Linked DNA regions of Homo sapiens. The protein of the gene in region 3 purifies or fractionates together with the protein of the main gene of each other region. This does not show direct contact. Each region holds a gene or a part of one and is shown on either strand. Other genes may lie near its edges. The genes, in order: MASTL, NUP37, IMMP2L, SMS, RABGAP1, DICER1 and KCMF1.

The links.
Region 1: the proteins of IMMP2L (region 3) and MASTL purify together in Homo sapiens (affinity purification with mass spectrometry; one large-scale study listed by BioGRID and IntAct). This does not show direct contact.
Region 2: the proteins of IMMP2L (region 3) and NUP37 purify together in Homo sapiens (affinity purification with mass spectrometry; one large-scale study listed by BioGRID and IntAct). This does not show direct contact.
Region 4: the proteins of IMMP2L (region 3) and SMS purify together in Homo sapiens (co-immunoprecipitation; one large-scale study listed by IntAct). This does not show direct contact.
Region 5: the proteins of IMMP2L (region 3) and RABGAP1 purify together in Homo sapiens (affinity purification with mass spectrometry; one large-scale study listed by BioGRID and IntAct). This does not show direct contact.
Region 6: the proteins of IMMP2L (region 3) and DICER1 purify together in Homo sapiens (affinity purification with mass spectrometry; one large-scale study listed by BioGRID and IntAct). This does not show direct contact.
Region 7: the proteins of IMMP2L (region 3) and KCMF1 purify together in Homo sapiens (affinity purification with mass spectrometry; one large-scale study listed by BioGRID and IntAct). This does not show direct contact.

Annotation. Positions count from the first base shown.
Region 1 is NC_000010.11:27,172,352-27,175,851, forward strand, and holds part of MASTL (serine/threonine-protein kinase greatwall), read left to right. Parts: intron 1-766; coding exon 767-908; intron 909-3,500. UniProt on the Homo sapiens protein: Serine/threonine kinase that plays a key role in M phase by acting as a regulator of mitosis entry and maintenance.
Region 2 is NC_000012.12:102,075,115-102,078,614, reverse strand, and holds part of NUP37 (nucleoporin Nup37), read left to right. Parts: intron 1-1,111; coding exon 1,112-1,293; intron 1,294-1,767; coding exon 1,768-1,818; intron 1,819-3,500. UniProt on the Homo sapiens protein: Component of the Nup107-160 subcomplex of the nuclear pore complex (NPC). The Nup107-160 subcomplex is required for the assembly of a functional NPC.
Region 3 is NC_000007.14:111,482,493-111,485,992, reverse strand, and holds part of IMMP2L (mitochondrial inner membrane protease subunit 2), read left to right. Parts: intron 1-2,264; coding exon of another isoform or gene 2,265-2,346; exon of another isoform or gene 2,347-3,500. UniProt on the Homo sapiens protein: Catalyzes the removal of transit peptides required for the targeting of proteins from the mitochondrial matrix, across the inner membrane, into the inter-membrane space. Known to process the nuclear encoded protein DIABLO.
Region 4 is NC_000023.11:21,939,226-21,943,508, forward strand, and holds the start of SMS (spermine synthase), read left to right. Parts: upstream 1-1,483; 5' UTR 1,484-1,599; coding exon 1,600-1,648; intron 1,649-1,771; exon of another isoform or gene 1,772-2,142; intron 2,143-4,283. UniProt on the Homo sapiens protein: Catalyzes the production of spermine from spermidine and decarboxylated S-adenosylmethionine (dcSAM).
Region 5 is NC_000009.12:123,098,020-123,101,519, reverse strand, and holds part of RABGAP1 (rab GTPase-activating protein 1), read right to left. Parts: intron 2,806-3,500; coding exon 2,722-2,805; intron 2,043-2,721; coding exon 1,971-2,042; intron 1-1,970. UniProt on the Homo sapiens protein: May act as a GTPase-activating protein of RAB6A. May play a role in microtubule nucleation by centrosome. May participate in a RAB6A-mediated pathway involved in the metaphase-anaphase transition.
Region 6 is NC_000014.9:95,151,030-95,154,529, reverse strand, and holds part of DICER1 (endoribonuclease Dicer), read left to right. Parts: intron 1-3,500. UniProt on the Homo sapiens protein: Double-stranded RNA (dsRNA) endoribonuclease playing a central role in short dsRNA-mediated post-transcriptional gene silencing.
Region 7 is NC_000002.12:85,026,661-85,030,160, forward strand, and holds part of KCMF1 (E3 ubiquitin-protein ligase KCMF1), read left to right. Parts: intron 1-1,228; coding exon 1,229-1,396; intron 1,397-3,500. UniProt on the Homo sapiens protein: E3 ubiquitin-protein ligase which accepts ubiquitin from an E2 ubiquitin-conjugating enzyme and then transfers it to targeted substrates, promoting their degradation by the proteasome.

The DNA.
Region 1 (3,500 bases), on a different chromosome or scaffold from region 3:
CTGTCTTGCTGGTCTTACAAAGTTGTTGTGAATGCCAGGCGTGGTGGCTCACACCATCTTTGGGAGGCCAAGGTGGGAGGATCACCTGAGGTCGGGAGATCGAGACCAGCCTGACCAACATGGAGAAACCCCGTCTCTACTAAAAATACAAAATTAGCCAGGCATGGTGGTGTATGCCTGTAATCCCAGCTACTTGGGAGGCTGAGGCAGGAAAATTCCTTGAACCTGGGAGGCGGAGGTTGTGGTGAGCCGAGATCGCACCACTGCACTCCAGCCTGGGCAACAAGAGCGAAACTCCATCTCAAAAAAAAAAACTTGTTGTGAAATAACAAATTATCCTAAAAATTTTTAAATGCTATTTAGTACAATAGGTTATATGTAGTTCTGTCTTACGTGTTGTCTTAATCATTTGTTAGCCATAGCCTTCCTCAGTGGCTCTTCTTAAGCTTGTATTAGTCCATGCTATCAGTCTTCTTGCAGATTTTTTCACTGAACATTTTTCTTGCAGATTTTTTTTATTGTTTCTTATCTAGATCTTATTGGAATAATCAGTGTTGTCTAAGCTTTTGAACTTCACCAGATAAAAGGACTTTTTCATAATTATAACTAATTATGCATTCATTTTCAAAACTTATCAAAAATTTGACTACATCCTTTACGCCTAGTAGCCTATGAGCTAGTTATTTGGCTTGTGTGTTTCACCATTTTCTATTCGGTGTAAAAGGAATTAAGATATTTGTTATCTCTTAAACCCTTTTTGAATTAGCAGACCCCAAATCAGATCAAGTCGGGAACTCCATACCGAACTCCGAAGAGTGTGAGAAGAGGGGTGGCCCCCGTTGATGATGGGCGAATTCTAGGAACCCCAGACTACCTTGCACCTGAGCTGTTACTAGGCAGGGCCCATGGTAAGGCATGCATGTCTTGAGTTTTTGAAGTGTTATCTATCACTACATTATCTTTCAAGGTTAAATTTTAAAAAATTTCTTCAGTACTTACGTTACCTAAAGTAAAAGAAAATGAACTCATCTAGTATATATATGGCATTTGTCATAGGAAAATAAACTAGCAGTAGCCATGGCTGTCCCACTCTCTGAATGTAAAAGACCAGATGCTGGAGTACATGTAGTCATTTGTCCTTTGCCTTCTGGTTCAGTCTCAATGTTCCAGAGAAGCCCCACCTGCCACCCTTGATATTATCTTATCTCTTTTTTTATTTTTTTATTTATTTTTATTTTTATTTTTTGAGACAGAGTTTCTCTTTTGTCACCCAGGCTGGAGTGCAATGGTGCAATCTCGGCTCACTGCAATCTCTGCCTCCCAGGTTCAAGTGATTCTCTGGCCTCAGCCTCCTGAGTAGCTGGGATTACAGGCATCCACCATCATGCCCGCCTAATTTTTGTATTTTTAGTAGAGACAGTTTCACCATGTTAGCCAGACTGGTCTTTAACTCCTGACCTCAGGTGATCCTCCCACCTTGGCCTCCCAAAGTGCTGGGATTACAGGCGTGAGCCACCGTACCCGGCCTATCTTACCTCTTAATGTTTCTTCAGGTTGGATGGAGTTTGGGCTCAGGACCACAATGTTGGGTCTAAATTTCTGTTCAGTCTTCAGAAGCCTATTCCTGTTTAGAACTTATTCTCAGTTATATCCTTACCAGAAGAGTCAAGCCAGAAATGAACCATCATCCTTCAAAACAGAACATAAGTATAGAAAGATAGGGCTGGTTACGGTGGCTCACGCCTGTAATCCTAGCACTTCGGGAGGCCAAGGCAGGTGGATCACTTGAGGCCAGGAGTTCGAGACCAAGCTGGCCAACATGGTGAAACCTCACCTCTACTAAAAACACAAAAATTAGCTGGGCATGGTGGTGCATGCCTGTAATTCCAGCTATTCGGGAGGCTGGGGCATGAGAATTGCTTGAACCTGGGAGGCCGAGGTTGCAGTGAGCCAAGATCGTGCCACTACACTCGAGCCTGGGCAACAGAGCAAGACTCTGTCTAAAAAAAAATAAAAATAAAAATAAAAAGATGACATTTTCACCTATCTTCTTTTCTTCCCTTTCTCTCTGAAAACTGTTCCCTTCCTGCATTCTGAAATGAACTGTATTCATCTTCCTAGGGATGCTGTAGCACAAACTGGGTGTCTCAAACCAATAAAAATTCATTGTTTCACAGTTCTGGAAGCTAGAGTTCCAAAATCAGGTGTCCACAGGGCTATACTACCCCTGAAACCTGTAGGGAAATCCTTCTTTGCCTCTTCCTGGCTTCTGGTGGCTTGCTGGCAATCCTCAGTGTTCCTTGACTTGAAGATGCCTCATTCCAGTTCTCCCTCTTTCTGTGATGGTGTTCTCCCTGTGTCTCTATCATCATAGAGCTGGCTTCTGAGAAGGACACCAGTCATTAGGAGCCCATCTTACTCCAGTATGACCTCATCTTAACCTAATCTTAACCTAATTAATCATAGTTGCAAAAACCCATTTCCAAATAAGGTCACATTTTTAGGTACGGGTTAGGACTTAAACATAGCTTTTTTGGGAGGGACACAGTTCAACCCATAACATCAACCTCTTCTACATGTTGATGTTAGTTACTTCCCTTTTCTTTGAGCTCTTTTCATGATCATCTGTTTCATCCTCCCCACCCCACCTCTCACACCCTTTCTTCTGTTTGTATTTCCTTGCCGGCTTTTATCCTCAGCCTGAAAATAAGTTTCCACCCTTGTCTCCCCAACATTGCCTAACTTCTCAAAGGTTTCCTCTTTGTTTGATTATTTTGCTCTGGCAACTTATCATCTCACTATTTAACTGAAAATTCTTTTATTTATTATTTATTTATTTATTTATTTAGAGATGGAGTTTTGCTCTTGTTGCCCAGGCTGGAGTGCAGTGGCACGATCTCAGCTCACTGCAACCTCCGTCTCCCGGGTTCAAGATATTCTCCTGCCTCAGCCTCCCGAGTAGCTGGGATTACAGGCATGCGCCACCATGCCCGGCTAATTTTGTATTTTTAGTAGAGATAGGGTTTCTCCATGTTGGTCAGGCTGGTCTCGAACTCCCGACCTCAGGTGATCTGCCTGCCTTGGCCTTCTGAAGTGCTGGGATTACAGGTGTGAGCCATGGCGCCCGGCCTAACTGAAACTTCTTAATGGGCACCAGTGATTTCCTTATTGTCAAATCCAATTGTCTCTTCTCATTCCCCTGACCTCTGTTGCTGCTCTTCAGTTCCTTCCTTACCTCTTCTAAATATAGTTCTTGGAGATTCTGCCTTTACCCTTTTTGCCCTACACGTGCTCCATGTTCATCTCATCACTCCCATGATGTCAGTTTGTCACCTCCATGTTGATGATTCCCAAATCTCTGTCTCTAATCCTGACTTTCTCTAGGCAGCAGACAGACAGCCAATCTGGCTATTCAGTATTCTACTGATCTTTCAAATGTTGGGTCTCAAAACTGGACTTGTGGGGCCTGGTGCTGTGGCACATGGCTGTAATCCCAGCAC
Region 2 (3,500 bases), on a different chromosome or scaffold from region 3:
GCAGTCACTCAGCTTATAAGTGAAGGAAGCGGCGTGTCTGTGCTCTTTAACTATGCTGCCCTGCCTTCCATTCTAGAAACAAACTTCAGTTGCATAAGTATGTGTAACACATAAATGTCTGTCTCTCTTGAGAGATACATACTTAGCTATTCTTTCTAGACAATATAACTAACATAACTTAAAAGTAACTTTTCCCAGAAGGAATTGTTAAATTGATCTCTTCTTCTTAGTGACGGCACATCATCACTTAAAATTCTACCAAATCTCAAAATCTTTTTTTTTTTTTTAAAGAAGGAATTTCGCTCTTGTTGCCCCGGCTAGAGTGCCGTGGCACAATCTTGGCTCACTGCAACCTCTGCCTCTCGGATTCAAGCAGTTCTGCCTCAGCCTCCCGAGTAGCTAGGATTACGCGCATGCCACCACAACCGGCTAATTTTTTTTTTTTTTTTAGTAGAGACGGGGTTTCACCATGTTGGCCAGGCTGATCTCGAACTCCTGACCTCAAGTGATCTGCCCGCCTCAGCCTCCCAAAGTGCTGGGATTACAAGCGTGAGCCACCACACCCGGCCAAATCTTGAATTGTTTATCTTGCCAGTTTTCTCTAAGGTTTTTTATATTCTCTAGAGATTTTTACATAGCCTCTTCCTTTACATTTGATCTTCCATTTGTAATATAGGTTGAGGATCCTTATCTGACATTCTTGGAACTAGAAGGGTTTCAGATTTTGGAATTTTTTGCATTTTGTAATATTTGCATATACATGAGATACCTTGGGAATGGGACCCAAGTCTAAACATGAAATTCATTTATGTTTCATGTATACCTTATACACATGACCTGATGATAATTTTATATAACTTTTTTTAATAATTTTGTGCATGAAACAAAGTTTGTGTTAAGTGCTTATATGTGGAATTTTTCACTTGTGGTATCATGTTAGCACTCAAAAAGTTTTAGTTTTTGGAGCATTGCAGATTTTCAGATGAGGAATGCTGAACCTGTATATTGCAAATGTTTACATTTTACCGTACAACAGTGAATCTCTGCTTACACTTCAGGTATAGTTAGTGAGATAAGTGATTGAGTTTCTTTTTATTTTTCTGTCTTACAGCTAATGGTTGCAGAGAAGAATGGAACAATCCGGTTTTATGATCTTTTGGCCCAACAGGCTATTTTATCTCTTGAATCAGAACAAGTGCCATTAATGTCAGCACACTGGTGCTTAAAAAACACCTTCAAAGTTGGAGCCGTTGCAGGAAATGATTGGTTAATTTGGGATATTACTCGGTCCAGGTACTTTCTTGATATGTTTGTCTATTACACACCAAAAAAAGGCAGTAACTGTTGCTAAATGATCCACTCATCCATCCTGTTATACCTGAGACTATGCTGTCAAGCGAAAGCAAGTCTTTCCTATAGAAGGCCAGAGCTATGGATTTTTATATAACATAAACTTGCTATGCAGATTTACTCTGGGAGTAACCCAGAAAGGACAGTGCAAAAGAGGAAATCTTGGATCTGTGCAATGTTGACTTATATTGGAAAATAAGAAAAACACTGACCCTGTTGCATGATGGTTCCCTGCAGTGGTTCTAAGTCATGTCTTTATTGTATTTCATCTGTTTTAACTGATTGCTTGTTTAGGATTTATTATAGTTTAAACACATTGGACATTCTGTCCTATAAAGAGAAAATACTGTTTAAACCTTAAGTTCACCCACTTGAGTTTAACACATAATTCATAAAATGCAAAATATTATCTTTTAGTTATCCTCAAAATAAGAGACCTGTTCACATGGATCGAGCCTGCTTATTCAGGTAATGTACCGTTTTTGTTGGAGCTGTGATTTGATCTTTTGACGTTGCTGTGCCACCACTGGGATACTTTTGTAGTTCTCTTCTTTGCACTGGATTTTTTTTTTCCCTTATTGTTTTATAAGTGGTTATTTTACTTTCCCGACTAAGTCATTGCCTTTGTCTTTTGGTCTAGACAAGGAGTTGATTTGTTTTCCAAATATTTTCTTTACACAGAAAAACATGTAACCACTCCACCACTACCACCCCTACAATTTGGAATATATTATGCTTCCTGATTGTTCTGTGCTGTTAAGGATGTAAATGTAGGGGAGCCCATGTTCATGTATATAAACTTTATTATTATGTGTTAAATGAAACTATGCTAGATAGTATATCTCTGCGACATGTTTTTGCTTTTCACTTAAATTAACATACATGTCTACCTTGTTCTTTTTCATAATACTCCATTGTATAGTGTGGTCCTTAAGCCATTATTTCTGCTTTTTAAGTAACAGCAAAACCAAATAAGAGACTAAAACCAGTGAAATTTTATTATATGCTATATTCCAATAAGTTGTAGAACTTAGGGATACCATTATTAAGAATAAAATACATTCGACTAAATGTAAGAATGCCATGGATCGTTAAGATACATCCTGACTTCAGAGATGTGTGAACAAATATACACCAATGAGCAAGTATCCATCAATTTTAAAATCAATGAGCTATGGTACTTATAAGTCTAGAGGAGGTAGTCTCAGGGCTTGTTGAGCAGCTCATCAATGTCATCAAGAGCTCAGACCCTTTTCATCCTTTCCCTCTGCTATTCTCAGTGTCAAGGATTGGGACTTGTTGCTTCATAGTTACAAGATGGCTGTGAGAGTTCCAGGCATAAGAGAAGTACTCCATTTGCCGAACAATTAAACAAAAAAAAAAAAGTAAGAGGAGAAGAAGGAACCCTCTCCTTTTATGGGAGATTGCTATGACTGCCTTAAACTAATTATGTCTCATCCCCTAGGGTAGGACACACTGTGCCCTGAACAAAGTTAGGCTTCACTTAGCATGGAAAAGGGGCAGAATGGCTGTCATATTTGATGCCTTATTTGTTTCTTCTACCACACTATTACCCCTTTGGTTGTGAAAAAAAGGATTGTATCAACCTTGTGTAACTTTGGAACTTAATGAAATGACACAAAATAAGCACTTCATAAAACTTAAAGTATGAGAAAATATTTATGGAATATTTTCCTGGAATTCCCGGTCTAATTGTAAAGACATATTAACAAATTTAGGATTATTAAAATCACTGGTTTTATACAAAAAGAAACCTGTTTCTGTCTAGGTGCTATGGCTCATACCTATAATCCCAGCACTTCAGGAGACCAAGGCAGGAGGATCACTTGAGGCCAGGAGTTTGAGACCTGCCTGGGCAAGATAGCAAGACCCCATTCCTACAAAAAACAAAAAATTAAAACTTACCTGGGCATCGTAGTACACACCTGTAGTCCCAGCTACTAGGGAGGCTGAGGTGGGAAGATCACTTGAGCCCAGGAATTTGAGGCTACAGTGAGTTTTGTTAGCACTTCTGCACTCCAGCCTGGGTGACAGAGCAAGACCCTGTCTCTTAAAAAAAAAGAAAAAGAAAAAGAAAAAGCCCGCTTCAGAAAAGCTTGTCATTATCCATAGGATACGATACTTAATTT
Region 3 (3,500 bases):
TTTGGTTTGACAAGGTTATATCCTCACTTAGTTGGTGATGGAAAGGATACCCACCCAAGTGAAAGAGGTCACACTATACGCAGACAATTGTGCAGTATTTTTTTTTTCCCGTGAGAAACATGCTGACTATCTCTAACCAAGTGGACTTAAATAGATAATTGAAAAATAAAACAGGGCTGCTTGATATTCAGGGTTGCATGGGTCCATAAAAGTATCCTACCATATCATGGAGTATATTAAAAAGAGCACACTACTATTTTATATAAATATTCATAGTGATTGATATTTATTATATACATTAACTTCAAAAATATTCTATTCAAATTGGGATTGATATATAAATTATAGCTATTCCAGTTGAACTGTGTTTTTTTTTTTTTTTTTTTTTTTTTTTTGAAACAGAGTCTCGCTCTGTTGCGCAGGCTGGAGTGCAGTGGCGGGATCTCGGCTCACTGCAAGCCCCGCCTCCTGGGTTCAGGCCATTCTCCTGCTTCAGCCTCCTGAGTAGTTGGGACTACAGGGGCCCACCACCACGCCCAGCTAATTTTTTGTATTTTTAGTAGAGACGGGTTTCACCGTGTTAGCCACGATGGTCTTGATCTCCTGACCTCATAATCTATCCACCTCGGCCTCCCAAAGTGCTGGGATTACAGGCGTGAGCCACTGCGCCCGGCCTGAACTGTGTTTTTAATGACTCAGTTATGTGCTATATCTTTGTCATGTACAAATAACACAAACTTTCATGTGCTTGTTCTTAGGAGGAGCCATTTACATAAAAGAGTGCTTAGTTACTAGTATTATATATTTAACAACAGATGATCGTGAAGCAATATTGTTGCTTTGAGAAAGAAACAAAAAATCTGATGCTAAATTCTTCTTTAGCATTATTTAAAGTATTTTTTTAGGTCAGGGCCAGGTGGCTCAGGCCTGTAATCCTGGCACTTTGGGAGGGCAAGGTGTGTGGATCCCTTAAGCCCAGGAGTTTGAGACCAGCCTGGGCAACACGGTGAAACCCTGTCTCTACAAAAAATACAAAAATTAGCCGGGTTTGGTGATGCGTGCCTGTAGTTCTTAGCTACCTGGGAGGCTGAGGTAGGAAGATCGATTGAGCCTGGGAGGTCGAGACTGCAGTAATCTGTGATTGTGCCACTGCACTCCAGCCTGGGTGACAGTGAGACCCTGCCTAATAAAAAGTATCTTTTTAGTCTTATGATGAAACATGCTTTCTAGACCATATCCATGTATTTTCATACAATTTAGAAACTGCTTCATTTTAGAAGATTGATGTTGGTTTGATTGCAGTTCATAATATACATTTAATTTATATCAAATATTGAATATTTGCTTTTCTTATACAATGCATCAGTTTGTTTTTAACATAGATGATAATTTTTGTTACTACATTGGAACATCCTATTTATTTAAGAAATGTGTGACACATACAGAAGTGTATATTAAAATGTTCGATTTAAAGCTGATGATAAAATACACTTCGTAATTTTGTTTAGAAATTGATATTAACAGTATACTTCATTGATAAATAAGTAATCTTTGAAAACAAACCAGTATAACCTTTTTATATTAAAAAAATCTTGAGACAATGTATTCAGAATGTGTGGTAATACACCATTTCTACTATAATATTATGTGTGCTTTTCTGGAAAATTTGCAGTTTCCAAATTCTTACTTAAATCAGTAGGGCTTATTCAACTTTATAACCAGAGCACTGATGAAAACAATAACAATGTCAATAAAAATACTAACACAGTTTAAAAGACATGAAGTTTCTAATAATTAAACTGCAGTAAAAGTAGTGTTTTACTTAAAACATAAAAGGTGAAGATAGCTTGGTGGTAGGTGGTATAAGGAAGGGTTGAGGCTGTCTGTGGATGCAAGGGCAGAAAGACATTATCATTACAAGTCATAAATAGAGAAAAGCTTGTAAGCTTTGTACAAAATGTACTGATACCAGAGTTGTATGCTCTCCTCATTGTTTTGTGTTACTTTGTTTTATTTATTTAGTTATTTATAAACAAAGATCAGGGTTAACTTTGCAGTAGCACTTCTCAGAGAAAGGCTGAATGTATAATACTGATTCCTTCCTGGTTTGCTGCCATTAGTATACGTAGCCTTCAGTTGCCTGTACTAATAAGGCAAAACATTAATCATCTGGGAAAAAAATTACATAGGAACCAATGTAACTTCTGCATTACACTGAAATCTTTTCTCCACTTACCAATTGTCTATGTTAATTCATGTTACAGAAACACATATATAGCAAAGCAGACTGTCCTTTCTATTGCAAGGGGTTTTGTTCAGAGTTGGTTGACCAGTGTTGTTTCCTAAAGCATGGGAGATCTGGCAGAGGGAGGTGGGTGCATATTATTTTTTTGCATATCTTTCTTATTTTTCACTGTCTCTTTCTTTCTGTAAAAAGTTGGTCACAGTGGAGTTATTGTTTAAGTATGTTATTCAGTAGCTACATTTATTTAATAACATTATTGGTTGCACAAAATATGATTTGCTGTCATCAAGTCCTCACTATAGTATATGTAGGTGGCATCATACTCTCTTAGTGATTTACAAACTCATAGTGGTGAGTAAGGTGAATTTTCTATACCTTGGAATTGACTTTTCGTTAACCTGTGTGATGGCCTTCCTGGCTTAACATAAGTTGCACTATTTCACAATAATATATCACTTAACAAGTCCATCGGGACAGAGGTTCTTTCATAATAAAGTCCTAAATAATCACATTTAAAAGTGTTTTAACTTAATTTTACTTTTATTTGTTTTGAAGAAAAGTTGCAAAAATAGTGTAGAGAGTTCCCACAAATCCCCTAATATTAACATTATATAGAACCATAGTTCAAGTATTGAAACCAGGAAATTGACATCAGTAGAATATTATTAGATCTAATCTTATTAGACGAATAGGTCTAGACCTTATTCAGATTTCACCTGTTTTCCCACTAATGTCCTTTTTTTGGGCCAAGATCCTACTCAAGATCCCATATTTTCATTTTTTATTTTTTATGTCTCTTTAGTCACCTTCAGTATATGCCAGTTCCTTGATCTTTGTCTTTTATGCCATTGACACTTTTGAAGGGTACTGTCCAGTTATTTTGCAGAATGCTGCTCAGCCTCTTTAATGTTTGATGCCAGACTCTCTTTCAATAGAGAAGCACTAACGTTAATGGCAGTTGCTGAGGCTGAGGAAGCTGCAGCAGTGAGAACCCCTGAATAAAGGAGAAACTCTGTCTGACTAGGCAGTAGGGCCAGCTGGGGAGGTGGATACCACAGGGGCAGAGAAGAAAGAGATGGTAGGATTTCTCTTTCAGGCATGGGTTTTTTTTTAGTTTCTTGGAACCACATACTTGGGTCATGACTACAAGGGTTCAGGGATTCTAGAAATAAGTCTACCGAGTCAAATTTATAGCTGCTAGGAAGCAAAGAAGGAGAGCTGTGTGAGTGGGAGAAATGGCCACAGTTTATAGAGA
Region 4 (4,283 bases), on a different chromosome or scaffold from region 3:
AGCCCGAGGGCCACCTGTGCTGCCAGACACAAGCTGCAGAGCATAACCAGCTACGCAGTTTGCAGGCCAAGGGCAAAATAAAAACACGGGGCCCCTTGTTCGAGAGTTAAGAATTTCAAGATGGCAACAGCAGAGAATTAAACCAAGTGCAGGGCCCTTTTGATGTGAGGCCCACACTGGTGCTGAGTGGGGAAAGGCACACCTGAGGCCCATGGAGCCCTACTGCTCCTGCAACATGCAGGACAAAGACAACTCTATTGTCAGTGACCTGACTCCAGGGGAATGGCAAGAAGTGAAGAACATCCCAGGAAGAAAGAGGAGCTGCAGACTGACATAGCTAACTGAAGGATGAGAATTGCAATAGCTAACAAAATTGAGAATCTAGGACACAGAGAAGAATGGTAAGACATGCAGAATAACAAACAGGTGGCCATGGGTAGACAAAAATTAATGCAGGTACTAGAAAAAGATTCAGTTCTTAACAGAGAAAGGTCTGTTCAACAGACCCTTGTTGAACACTTGTGAAGACACTGCCCAGTTTTTGTAGAAAGGTGAAGAACTCAGCAAAACAGCCGTTGCCTGGGGGAAGAGGTGAGTTTAATATCCAGGTTCTTCGTTGCTTTTGTGGAGGTACATGAGTTCATGGATTTAAATTTTGTCTAACCATTACAGCAATTCCTGTGGCCGTGAGAGGCACAAAAGCCTGACACGATGATGGAGGCATTTGCCCAGGGATATTGTCAGTGCAGTAAAGAATAATTTTAGTTCAGACGCTCATGCTGTCTCCCCTTTGCCATCATTTTGTTGAACAGCAGCCATAACCCCAGTGTCAAAAATAAGCCCCCCGCAAAGGCTATTGCCATTAATAGAGGCGCCAGTGATGGAGGAGTCCTGCTAGACAAGCAACTCCGGAGTCTGCAGTTTCCTAATTCAATATTAACAACAATGCTGTCCTCTTACTGGCTTCTCCCTCATTTTATTTTGCGTGAAACTGTGGATAACGTAAATGCCCAAGCGCTTTCTATTCAGTCCTCAAATGCAAAGCAGACCCTTGCTAATAATGGTAATAATCCGAATGGGTTTAACTGCAGCATTGTAAGAAAAGGCAGGCAGTACTCTTAGACTACAGGGGTGGATCTCATCATTTGATTTTCCCGACTCCGCCAGGAAATAAGAGGGGCCTTGGCTTGGGGAGAGGTGTGTGGGGAGGCGTAAGGGGTGGGCCCCCCGGAAATCCTGCTGCGCTGTTTAAACCTAAGGTGACCTAACGGATGGCGGGAGCGGCCGCGCGAGCCTTGGAGCAGGGCGCGGCCATTGGTGACGCACGCCGGGGAGCACGGCGCCCACGTTTCCACCATTAGCGAGGCCTCACACCCGGCGCTCCAAGTTCGGGGCTGGAGGCGTCCCGGCTTCCTCCCTCCCGGAGCGGGACCGGCCCCGCCCCCGCGCCCCGGGTCGCTCCCGGCGGCCCCTCCCACCTCCTAGTCCTGGCCTCCCCGGGCGCAGCACACTCCCAGCCGGCCGCAGCCTGACACGCCGCGCGGCCCCCCAGTCTCCCGCGGCTGCTCCCCCAGGCATGGCACAGGGCCTCGCCTCACTATGGCAGCAGCACGGCACAGCACGCTCGACTTCATGCTCGGCGCCAAAGGTGAGGGCGCCCGCCGCCACCTGCGTGGCCATCCCCGCCGCTCCCGCCGCCTGGCGGGCTGGGGCGGGGGTCGGGCGTGGCGTGCGCCGCGGGCCGAACAATGCGGGCGGCCCGCGCGGCGCCGCACTCTCCCGGACTGCCACGCACAGCGCGCTGCGGGGCCGCGTGCACCGGCGGTCGGGCGGAGGCCGCGCTCCTGCTGGCTCCGCGCTCCGTCCCGGCCGCAGCTCGGGGCCTGCAGGGGCAGTCCCGGGTGCCCGCCGGCCGCGCCGCCCTTCCGGGCCCTGGCCGTCCACCCGCGCTCCCACGCGGGCTCGCCGCCTTCGCGCTCCCGCTCGGGGAGTCCCCGGGCTGCCGGGCGCGGGCGGACCCCCCATGGGACGAGGGTTGCAGGGACTGCGGCGGAGCGAGGCGTGACCCGCGCGGCGAGCCCGGGCTGGGGGCGTGCGCCGAGCGGGGCTGCCCGCGCGACCTTTTCCTGTTCTTGCAGGCGGGTAAATTTCCCTCTTGGGGGCGGGGGTTTCCCCTCGTAGGGAGCTGGGGCTGGGGAAAGGTCTGCGGACGCGCAGCGCTTGCAGAATTCTCAGCCGACTGCGTAGGAGACGGATCCCCCGGAAAGGAACTGGGGGACGGGAAAAGGAAACGATTATTATTATTGGGGGTGGGGAGGCATGAGGTCTGGGCGCGGGAATCGTTTACACCCCGAATCGGGGAGCTATCAAAAGACAGCCGGCCGGGCGCGGTGGCTCACGCCTGTAATCCTAGCACTTTGGGAGGCCGAGGCGGGCGGATCACGAGGTCAGGAGTTCGAGACCAGCCTAGCCAACATGGTGAAACCCCGTCTCTTCTAAAAATACAAAAATTAGCCGGGCGTGGTGGCACGCGCCTGTAATCCCAGCTACTCGGGAGGCTGAGGCAGGACAATCGCTTGAACCTGGGAGGCGGAGGTTGCAGTGAGCCAAGATCGCGCCATTGCACTCCAGCCTGGGCGACAGAGCAAGACCCTGTCTCAAAAAAAAAAAAAAAAAAAAAAAAAAAAAAAAAAAAAAACCCGACCAGAAGAGAGAGGCCTGCTAAAGTCGGAACTGTGTGCAGGAAATTTGAAGGGGAAGGATAATTTGCAGGCTTCTTTTCTCGGGGTGCCTCTGTCGTGGGGGGTGGGAGTCGCGGGAAGGATAGAACTGCCCTTTCTTTTTCTGGTGGCTTTTAAACCTGTGACTGCCGCAGACTTGAATCTGCACTTCCCATAGGTTCCACTTGGAGTGTCTCGCTCATACCTTGCTTTTCCCACTGTTTTCCTCGAATTGGATAGAGCAGGCTTTTCTCTTACCATTTTTAACACTGTTCCTTTCTTTCTGAATTTCTGAGTACTCACTTTGCATTTTCTCCCGCAAATTTAAAGGATCTCCGAAGGCACAAGATCTAGTGAAGACTGAGGATTTGGAGCAACACCTGGGTTTGAGTCTGGCTTCTTCCTGATGGGCTCTGCGTGTGGCCTTGGGTTTATGTTAACCTTTCTGAGCCTTCCCTGTCCATTAAAAAGAAAAAAAAAAGTGTACACCTCTTCGGGCTTTTACTCTTAAGGGGGTAGCTGTGGAGCACACTGTAGGGTTTTTAAGCAATGTCAGTGTATTTAGGTGGTCTGAAGTGACTTAGAGAAAACAAAGCATGTTAATTTTAGTTCCCACATTTCTTAGGTGAGGATGGTAGGGCATGGAGACTGCTAGAGATGAAATGGTGCTTGAGTGGTGGAGCTGAAGAGCCAAGGTTTCATTAATAACCCTGCCAGCCTTAGGGCTGAATGGTTAATGAAAGCTCTAGCATACTGAATTTAGCGGTGAGGAGAAATAGTGTATTAGGGTCACCCAGCTAGTAAGGGGTGAGTCTGGGAAGTGTCCCTGTTGTGAGCACCTTGTGAACACTCACCTGTATTTATCGTCCATGGATTTTCTTAACTTTTTTTTTTTTTTTTTTTTTTAATTCTGAGATGGAGTCTCACTCTGTCGCCCAGGTTGGAGTGCAGTGGTGCGATCTCGGCTCACTGCAACTTCCATCTCCTGGGTTCAAACAATTCTTGTGTCTCAGCCTACCAAGTAGCCGGGATTACAGACTCGAGCCACCACGCCCAGCTAATTTTTTTTGTTGTTGTTTAAAGTAGAGACAGGGTTTCACCACGTTGGCCAGGCTGGTCTCAAACTCCTGGCCTCAAGCGATCCGCCTGCCTCAGCCTCCCAAAGGGCTGGGATTACAGGCATGAGCCACCGTGCCGGTGTGTCCATGGGTTTTCTTTTATGCTTTAAGGAGGGTGATCTCAGCATGGAGCCCAAAGACTCTGGCACTTCCCTTTGTCCTTAAACCTCCTTGGCCAAATTTAGATTTAGTCTCTTGAAGTGCTGGTTCACAATAGGATGTTTTTGTTGTTTTGTTAAAGTGGGAAAAGAGCGAATGAAGAAAAAGTGAGAGAATTTTAACACTTGGGGCTGACACTGTCCAGGAGAACCATGGATGTATCGTGTGGGAGGGAGGAGGAGAAACTGACGTTTTTGAAGTTGGAAAGGTGTGGAAGTGGCATCTTAATTTAGTTGTGCAAAGAGGAAGTAAAAAGATTGACGATAAAGACGTGTATAGATCAGAA
Region 5 (3,500 bases), on a different chromosome or scaffold from region 3:
CCTTTAGGATGGTGTGAGCATCTCCTTTGGGGGACACCAAGAGACGGCTTCTCTGTTGAGCACTACAGTTTCTGAAAACCTGTGCTCTTTGTAAACTGGCAGATAACCTACTGGAAAAGCCACTTGGTATTATACACCAAAAATAATAAAATTATCATTGTCTTGATTCAGTAATCTCACTTCTAGGAACCCAGGCTGAAAAATGAAGCTGTAACTAGATAAAAATTTATGTACAAAAATTTTCACTGTAGAACTGGAGACAGGCAAAAAAGCAGGGGATAAACTATTCAAAAACAATTAAATATTAAATATACTGTGCTATATTTATACAAGGAAGTACACAGCCTCTAAAAGGTTTTTGAGGAACTTTTATAACATTGGAAAATGGATGCATGCTGGTTGAAATAGAACACAAAAATGTACATAAACTATGATTACAAATAAAATGTATTCCACATTTCATCAAAATAAGATGCCATTAACTGTAAGAAATGTCATTTTATGTTCCTCTAAGAAAACATTCTGCCAATTAAACCACAAAAAGCCAATTATAAAACATCCGACTTTCAGAGATGTAAATGTGAAAAGAAATGCTTATCTCAGAATGAATGAAATTTTAGACGTTAAACACTGAACAAAGACTGAAAGAATACACACCACAGTATTAATAAAGATGTTATATGTGGAAAATGGATCATAAGGGCTTTTTTCCCTTATTTACTCTTCTTTTCCAAATTTTCTGCAAGAATATTAAAGTTTTAGAATCAGAAAATAAGTTCTGTTTAAAAACCAGATCTGGTTGGCCAGGCGCAGTGGCTCACAGCTGTAATCCCAGCACTTTGGGAGGCCAAGGCGGGTGGATCACGAGCTCAGGAGTTCGAGACCAGCCTGGCCAAGATGGTGAAACCCTACCTCTACTAAAAATCGAAAAATTAGCTGGCACGGTGGCACAAGCCTGTAATCCCAGCTAGCTGGGAGGCGAGGAAGGAGAATAGCTTGAACCTGGGAGGCGGAGGTTGCAGTGAGCCGAGATGGCGCCACTGCACTCTAGCCTGGATGACAGAGCAAGACTCTGTCTCAAACACACACACACACACACACACACACACACACACACACACACACACACACACACATCTGGTTAAACATTAATTATGACGAAGGCCAGTGTCATCCTGCTCTAGGTAATGTTGCTTTGCGCAAACATAGCCATGAGCACAGAACTTTCCCAAGTTCCTGTCCTCTGAGCTGTAAATATGTTAGTGAGGCACTTTTCAGTAAATTGCTTATCTTAGTAAAATCTGACAAGTTCTGTAATACAGGTAGAACTTAAAGAAAGAAAGCACCATGTTATAAAAACTCCTAAGCTGCCAACAAAACATTAAACAATTAAAGTTCTAAACTGGGCGCAATGGTGCCCACCTGGAGTCCAGCAGCTCAGGCTGAGGGAGGGATTTCGCTTGAGCCCAGGATTTCAAGGCCAGCCTGGGCAACATAGTGAGACCCTGTCTCTAAAAATAAAAAAAAATAAAAATAAACTAAGGTCCTCATTGTAATTGGATGTGTTACAGCAGAAGGCATGAACTCAGAACAACACTGGAAAGTGACAAGCCACAGCACATGATTCTGACCTCTGCACTCCCACCACCTCAAGCAAGACCTATCACTTGCATGACTCCTTCTCCTCAGCATCACACTGCGGACATCGACTGCCTTACAGACATTTGGAAATCATGGGGCACTTGCACTTTGAGATCTAAAGCTAGAGCTTGTTTGATTTCATCTGTACACCCTTCCAGAGAAAACAGGCGTAGTGTTAGTTGTCAACTACTGAGCCAGGACCTGTGACAGGTGCCTTATTGCTTAGATTCTCTCACTTTTGAAATCAACTGCCTCCTCCCAAAACCTGTTTATACAGCCATAAAATGAAGTAGGTGGTATAAAATCTTTTAGGTAAAGAGAAGTCTTACCCGAATTTTCTCAATTTCCACCTTATTGGCTGTCTGCTGCTTCTCCAATCTTTCACTCAACTGAGAACAAATCTAAAGAAACAAATATAAAACAACAATCTCTTGAGCAATTGTAATCATCTGCATAAATTCCATAGTGGAAGCTGGAATATGTAAATTGGAATTAACATAGTAGCAAATAGCCTGCTACCGCTCAGGAGGGGATATGAAGTCGATGGATAAGCAGGGGTTCTTCTAGCTATGCCGCCTCTGCATTCACTGGCCTAGGACTTGCAGAAACCAAGCAGCACCACACTCAATGGCCAATGGTTTCTGAACACCTGCCAGACTCATGAGCCAGCAAGAGATCCTAGTGTAGGAGGGAACAAGACCATTCTGTTATGTTCTTAAAACTCAACCAGTCAGGGAAATAACCGGTTTAAAACTACACGTAAACAAAAGTTCGTAATTCTGAATCTGAAATACATACCAAAACATACTGTGGTTTTAAGTACCTACTATGTGCTGGGCACTGCCAGGCACTCTACAAACATGGTCTTTTTAAATCCTCGTAACAACCTTCCTAGGCAGGGATGATTTTCCTTCTTTTACAACTGAGAATAAGTGAAGCCACTTGTCAGTGCAGGGGCAGAGCCAGGATCTGAAACCAGGGTGCTTGCATTTGGGTTTGGGGGTGGGGGGCGGGTATACATTTTATCCAGACTAGGGGCTCCCAGATTACACAGCCCAATCCCAGGGTACTGGAACCTACCTGCTTATAGTCACCAATGATAGAACTGTTTTTTTTAATCTCAGATTCTGCCTTGTCGAGTTCCCGACGGCACATTTCTTTTAACTGCACACATAAAAAAACAAAAGGGACTATGTTAACAGAAAAATAAAGGAAGTTCTGCCACCAACCGCTTAGTGCTAGGCTTCCCAAAAACTGCTGAACCAAACCCTGGAAGTCCTCTAATTCAGCTACTTTCTTCCTTCAATCTTGGCAGCACTAATCCCCTGTTCCTGATGCAGGAGAGGGAGAGAACAGTTAAAACTTCCAAAAACGTCAGACCCCATTTCAGATTGAGGCTTCTGCTGAAGGTCTTCCCTGCCAGTACAAGCCAACCTGTGGACCTTCACTGACAGACCAGACACAAACCAAAGAGCTCATAAGAGGACTGCGGGTTTTCAGCATCTCATGGTTTCTGTAGAAAGGGCTTTGCAGTCTCTCACCCCAGCCAGTCCTGCCTCCTGGACGACCGTGGTGTGACAGGGGAGGGGACTGCTCCCAGGCGCACAGCACCCAGAGCTCTTCCCATGCCTGCAGGTCTGTGTCTCCAATGACTATGGAGCACTGGCTCAGAACAAGACTTCCCAAGCTTGCTCTATGAGGGAGACAGCAGAGGACAAGTAGGGAAACAGCCAGGCATTATATGATGTGTGCTTTCCTTCTGCAGGAATTCTACCCCCTCTTCTTTGTTATGCTCAGATGCTGATACACAGAAATTCTCCTGCCCCAACAAAGGATGGGCTTCAACCCACTGTCTCCTC
Region 6 (3,500 bases), on a different chromosome or scaffold from region 3:
TGGAAAAGCTGAATGGTATTTCATTGTATGAATATACTGCATTTTGTTTATCCATTCATCTGTCCATGGCCACTTGGGTAGCTTCTATCTTTTGGCTACTGTGAATAATGGTGCTGTGAACGTAGGTATACAAATAATTCATTGGAGTCCATGCTTTCCCTTCTTTTAGACATATACCTCAAAGTGGTCACATTGTTTCTTGATCTTCAAAACACTAGACTAGACTCAGAATTTATTGCAGTATGAGTTTTCTCAGGGTTCCTCCAAGCAGTGATAATTTCCTACAAACAACTCCTCTGTCAGTAAAATCTGTAATCTCTCTGAAGCCCAGGGTCGACTCCTTTTTACGATCTTGGTTCCAATCATAGTGTCTGGCAGGTATTCAAAAAACTGATCAAACATGGAGTGATGTGCTTTATTGAATGCCAGAGGAAGATATTGGTGAGGTCTTTAATTTGTATAAAGAGAAAGTTGGAGCCAAGTGACTTATTTTGTTTACCTTTTGCTGTGCTTTTTGGACATTCAAGAGCTTAGTTCATCCTGAAAGCCCAGTGTATGTATTATACTCGCTCTTATTCACAGGTTTCTTTGCAATTTACGACTTGCCAAATGACTAGTCTTCTGAGGCAGCATTATTTTCTTGGTATTCCACCTCCTTAGCCTGTGGGGCTTGGACCTTTTGATTTTTTGATGGCTAGTTTTCACTTCTTCCAAATTTCTGCTAAGACTCTAGTATTAGTACATTTATTTAATAGTTTATGATGTCTATTTTGAGAAAGGATTTGAAATGGTCTTATAATAGGAAAGTATTAGAGTACTATGAAAATGGTAAAGGTTGGTAGTATAGAATGTGGAGGCAGAGAATTAGATGAATGATTGGGGCAAGGAAAGGTGAGTGCTGCATGTAACTCACGTTGATTAATGAAAGGAAGCATACCAATTTGAAGCAGATTTTTCTCTTGTATGAAGAATAATCAATCTTTTGGATTATTACATTAAATAACATTAGCAATATATGGAGAAAATGTTTTACATTTTACAAACGATAGAGAAACATTTTTTCACATGCCATTTTAGAGAAACTGGATAAAAGCCTCAGGCATAATAGAAAAGCTTTAGTAATACAGGTGTTCACTGTTCCAGTGGTTTGATTCATTAATTTCTTTTGGGTGGTGTCCCTCGAATATCAGTTGTCTCATTCAGGCTGTTGACAGATGCTAAATAACAATCCATTCAGGAATAAGCTCTGTGGACAACATGGGCAGTGAGGATTTTCCAAATAGGAATTCTCACCCAGTCTTTTTTTTTTTTTTGAGACGGAGTCTCACTACGTTGCCCAGGCTGGAGTGCAGTGGTGCGATCTCAGCTCACGGCAAGCTCCGCCTCCTGGGCTCATGCCATTCTCCTGCCTCAGCCTCCCGAGTAGCTGGGACTACAGGTGCCCGCCACCACACCCTGCTAATTTTTTGTATTTTTAGTAGAGATGAGGTTTCACCGTGTTTAGCCAGGATGGTCTTGATCTCCTGACCTCGTGATCCTCCCGTCTCGGCCTCCCAAAGTGCTGGGATTACAGGTGTGAGCCACCGTGCCCAGCCCTCTCACCCAGTCTTTAGGAACGTGTGTTGGTCTAAAAAGTAAGACTGGTTGTATCGTGGTGTATACTTGATGAATTAATACAGAAAGAAAAAGATTATTTTTGAGATGTAGCTGGTGAAATTGACATTTTCAGTTATGTAATAAAGCCTTTGTTAAAATAATTCTGAGTGCAAAATGGCTTCCTCATCTAAAATTGTCAATGAATTGTTGGTACTCCTTTAACATGCAGTTACCTCAATATGCATTTTAAATAAGTGACTAAGAAGATGCTACAAAACATTCTCTGAGGATGTCAGTAAGACTGTTACTAGAAGTAAGACATGACAGGCTTAAGTTTGGCCTTAGAGTTTTTTCTTTTTGTTTTTTAGGCTTATAACAGCATTACATGTTCTTGGTTGTGTTAAGGTTTATGGAATAGTAAGGATTAGATTCTTCATGCATGTTCATTACCAGACATGGTGCTTGACATATAGGAGACACTCCGATTTGTTGAGTGAGTAAGTTAATTTATAATACTTTTTGAAGTATTTAGAAGCTAACACAGTTTTGTGGGGAAGAATATTGCTTGCATATTAAGGCTTTTAAAAAGATTATTACTATTCTGCTTTTGGACAAATCATGCTACTTGGTCCTTTTTGCTTTGTGAGGTACGTATGATTATGTGCACAGAAACATTGCAGACTGAGGGAAGTGTTAAGAATCGTGGGAGAAAATCGCCGTCAAAATTGGAGTTTAACTGTATTGCAGACTTTCTCCTTGTTGGCACAGACTAACTCTGTTGTGCTTGTTCGTTCTTTGACAGCTCAATGTATGCCATAAAGCAGGGGTTTTAACAACACATTTGAACAATTCTTGAGGATTAGAAAATGAGGTCTGTTAACCAGTTCAGAATTTTAAGAAAACAAACCGGTTGTACTTAGAGAACTTGAATAATGAGAGAAGACTCTTAGTTTAAAAACTGATCTTTGACATGATGTAGGAAGGTTCTTTGATTAAGAAGTTAAATGACCCTGTTTGAAGGGAAAAAGAAAGGTAGTAGTCGTATTTAGTCGTATTTAGTCCTCTGAGATGTTTCGAGATTGCAGGATTTCTGTCTTTCCTCTTTTGGTAACATCCTGGGAGGTGAGATTAACATGATGAACTCACAGCCTGTCCGCCTCTTATGCATCCTGCTGCCCAGCCATCACTGTCAGTTGCTCTGATTCATGGTATTTTAAGTTCTTTCCACTTTGCAGAGTTAAATATTAATGTTTTATCATAGCTTTGTAGGGATGCTTAAGAGCAAGTGTTTGGCGTCAGAGAGACCAGGGTTCAAATCCTGATTCTTCGACTTTATAGCCGATGAGCACTGGGCATATGGCAACGTCTCTTGAGTCTCAGCTTCCTTGTCTATAAACTGTCGTAGTGGTGTTTGCCTCTTGAGGTTTTGAGAAAAAAAAGGAGTTTCTTAAACTCTCATGGTACATAACTAGCATTTGATAAAATTAATGTAATATTTTTCTTTTAAATACGTGTATTAGAGAAAATTTTAACATGCAATAGTCTTAATGTGATTAGATTATATTGTGAGCCCCCAAATTATCAATATTGAAATGTATGGTCTAGTAATATAATGGAGGATGAAGGAAAAGAGGGCTTGAGAACAATATTTTACAGACAAGTTTTCGAGGAGGATTATCTATACTGGTTCAGCTATCTTAGTTGGTCTCTGTAGTAGTGATACCAAATGTAACAGTGCCTTAAACGTCTCTTAACTTTCCCTAAATAACACATTCTTCATCTGCTATGCATGAATTAACACATCATCCTTGAAATCATACTTCAATTCAGTGTATAAAGCCAAGTGTTTTGTAAAATAAACCTCAAGTTAGGTTTTATGTTTCCTTATGATTAGATTCAGGTTT
Region 7 (3,500 bases), on a different chromosome or scaffold from region 3:
AAATTTTTTTGTAGACAGGATCTCTCTATGTTGCCCAGGCTGGTCTTGAACTCCTGGCCTCAAGCCATCCCCCTGCCTCGCCTTGCCAAAGTGCTTGGGATTATAGGTGTTAGCCACCACACCCAGTTATTTCTTTTAACAGGTCAAGAATTATTTGATGCCCCAATTCTGATATGAACTCATGACTGATTCTGCTGCTCCTGCTAGTTCTTTCTGATGGTGCTTTGTTTTTTTGTGTGTATTTTATGGTTTAAATTATGAACTTATTCTTTGGATGTTTATATATGCCAGATGCTTGGTATCAATTCTAATTTAAGACCACTTAAAATTCTTGACCCAAGGTCTTTGGAACCATTTGATAGAATTTGGGCTATAAACCCATGAGGACTGGTTTGTGGTTATGGCTTTTTGTGTTATTTTGTGCCCCTAGGGCAGGGGGCTTTCACTGGGGTAATTTTTGTAATCCCCTAGGGAGGATTTCTAGCCTACCCATGCATTGAGAGTATATTAGGGTCTTGGTTTTATGAGGAATCTTCTGTTAATTATCCCACCTTCACTAGGCCTTTGTCCAATAATGCTGTGGACCTTAAGCTTAGATTTTTACCTGCTTGGGCAAATACCCTCATGGTGAAAAGCCTTCTTTAGTGCTTCCAGTCACCAGTTCCTCTTCGTCTTGGTTTTTACCTTCTTGCTGGCTTATCAAGGCTTTTTTTTTTTTTTTTTTTTTTTTTTTTGAGACAAAGCCTCACTCTGTTGTGAGGCTGGAGTGCAGTGGCGCGATCTCAGCTCACTGCAACCCTACCTCCTGGGTTTAAGCAATTCTCATGCCTCAGCCTCCCAAGTAGTTGGGATTACAGGTGCCAGCCACCACGCCCAGCTAATTTTTGCATTTTTAGTAGAGACGGGGTTTCAACATGTTGACCAGGCTGGTCTTGGACTACTGACCTCAAGTGATCCACCCGCCTCGACCCCCGCAAAGTGCTCAGATTACAGGCGTGAGCCACTGCACCCAGCCTGTATCAGTCATTTTAAATTATTTTCATGTGGAGTATAAATCAGAGTAATGAATCCAGCACATGGCTAAAACTTCCCGTATCATTTTACTAAGTCATTTCTAGTCATTTTGGAAAGGACATATGAGGTTAAATGAGCACCTGAAACATTCATAAAAATGAAATCAAGAGTGGCCTTTACAACTGGTAACTAAAGATATTTCTTTTTTTTATAGGTGTCAGCTGTGATGCATGTTTAAAAGGAAATTTTCGAGGTCGCAGATATAAGTGTTTAATTTGCTACGATTACGATCTTTGTGCATCTTGTTATGAAAGTGGTGCAACAACAACAAGGCATACAACTGACCACCCAATGCAGTGCATATTAACAAGGGTAGATTTTGGTAAGTAATTAAAAATTTAATGAATTACATCATTTAGAATTTTATGTACGTTGAAGAAGTAAAGGCAAAGTGTTCTAAAACTCCCCAGCAGCATACCATAAGCCCCAAATTCATTAAACATGAAATAAATCTTACTTTTTTTTGAGACGGAGTTTCGCTCTTGTTGCCCAGGCTGGAGTGCAATGGCGCGATCTTGGCTCACTGCAACCTCCACCTCCCTGGTTCAAGCAATTCCCCTGCCTCAGCCACCCGAGTAGCTGGGATTACAGGTGCACACCACCACGCCTGGCTAATTTTTTTGTATTTTTAGTAGAGACAGGGTTTCACCACGTTGGCCAGACTGGTCTCGAACTCCTGACCTCAGTCAATCTGCCCGACTCAGCCGCCCAAAGTGCTGGGATTATAGGCGTGAGCCACTGTGCCTGGCTTTTTTTTTTTTTTTTTTTTTTTTTTTGAGGAGTCTTACCCTGTCGCCTAGGCTGGAGTGCAATGTCGTGATCTCAGCTCGCTGCAACCTCCACCCCCCAGGTTCAAGCGATTCTCCTGCCTCAGCCTCCCAAGGAGCTGGGATTACAGGCGTGCACCACCATGCCCGGCTGATTTTTTGTATCTTTAGTAGAGATAGGGTTTCACCATGTTAACCAGGCTGGTCTTGAACTCCTAACCTAATGATACACCTGCCTCGGCCTCCAAAGTGCTGGGATTACAGGCGTAAGCCACCGCGCCCGGCCTTACTTTTTACGTACTAAGTAATTCTGTCTGTTCATCTTAATCATAGTTTACTTGTTTAAAAAAACCATTCAGAAATATACACAACTGACAAGGAATGAAATAGAAGAGTGCTTCAGTAAAGAAGAAATATGCTCTGTCTTTTGTTCGTGCTATTAACACACAAATAATAGCTTTATTTTATTTTATTTTTTATTTTTTTAAGACAGAGTCTCACTCTGTCGCCCACGCTGGAATGCAGTGGCCGGATTTCGGCTCACTGCAACATCTGCCTCCTGGCTTCAAGCAATTCTCGTGCCTCAGCCTCTTGAGTAGCTGAGACTACAGGTGTGTGCCACCTTGCCCAGCTAATTTTTTTGTATTTTTAGTAGAGATGAAGTTTCACTATGTTGGCCAGGCTGGTCTTGACCTCAAGTTATCCACCTGCCTTCGCCTCCCAAAGTGCTGGGATTACAGACGTGAGCCACCATGCCCAGCAATAATAGCTTTTGTAGTGACCAGAAAACAGATTGTTGGCTGGTTATGGTGGCTAACGCCTGTAATCCCAGCCCTTTGGGAGGCTTAAGATGGTCAGATCACTTGAGCCCAGGAGTTTGAGATGAGCCTGGGCAACATGGCAAAAACCCTGTCTCTGCATCCACCCCCGAAAAATACAATAAATTAGCTGGATGTGGTGGCGCACATGCATCTGTAGCCCTAGCTACTTGGGAGGCTGAGATGGGAGGATCACTTGAGCCCAGGAGGTCAAGTGTGCAGTGAACCCTGATTGTGCCACTACATTCCGGCCTGGCCAACAAAGCAAGACGCTATCTCAAAAAAAAAAAAAGGCAGATTGTTTCTACAGTTGATTAGAAGACATTGTAAGAAAATATATAAATGTTTCATGCTATAATTTTTTTTTTTTTTTTTTTTGAGACAAGAGTTTCACTCTTGTCGCCTAGGCTGGAGTGCAATGGCGCCATCTCAGCTCACTGCAACCTCCACCTCCTGGGTTCAAGCGATTCTCCTGCCTCAGCCTCCTGAATAGCTGGGATTACAGGTGCCCGCCACCATGCCCAGAAAATTTTTTTTGTATTTTTAATAGAGACAGGGTTTCACCATGTTGGCCAGGCTGGTCTTGAACTCCTAATCTTAGGTGATCCACTTGCGGGCCTCCCAGAGTGCTGAGATTACAGACATGAGCCACCACGCCTGGCTTCGTGCTATAATTTCTTACCTAGCCCACACTTTTTGTCCTTTTTATTTCAGCCATCCTAGTAGGTGTAAAGTAGTATCTCAGGTGGTTTTGATTTATATTTCTCTGAAATATAAATTATGTTGAGCATCTTTTCTTGTGCTTATGGGCCATTTGTATATCTACTTTGAAGAAATACCT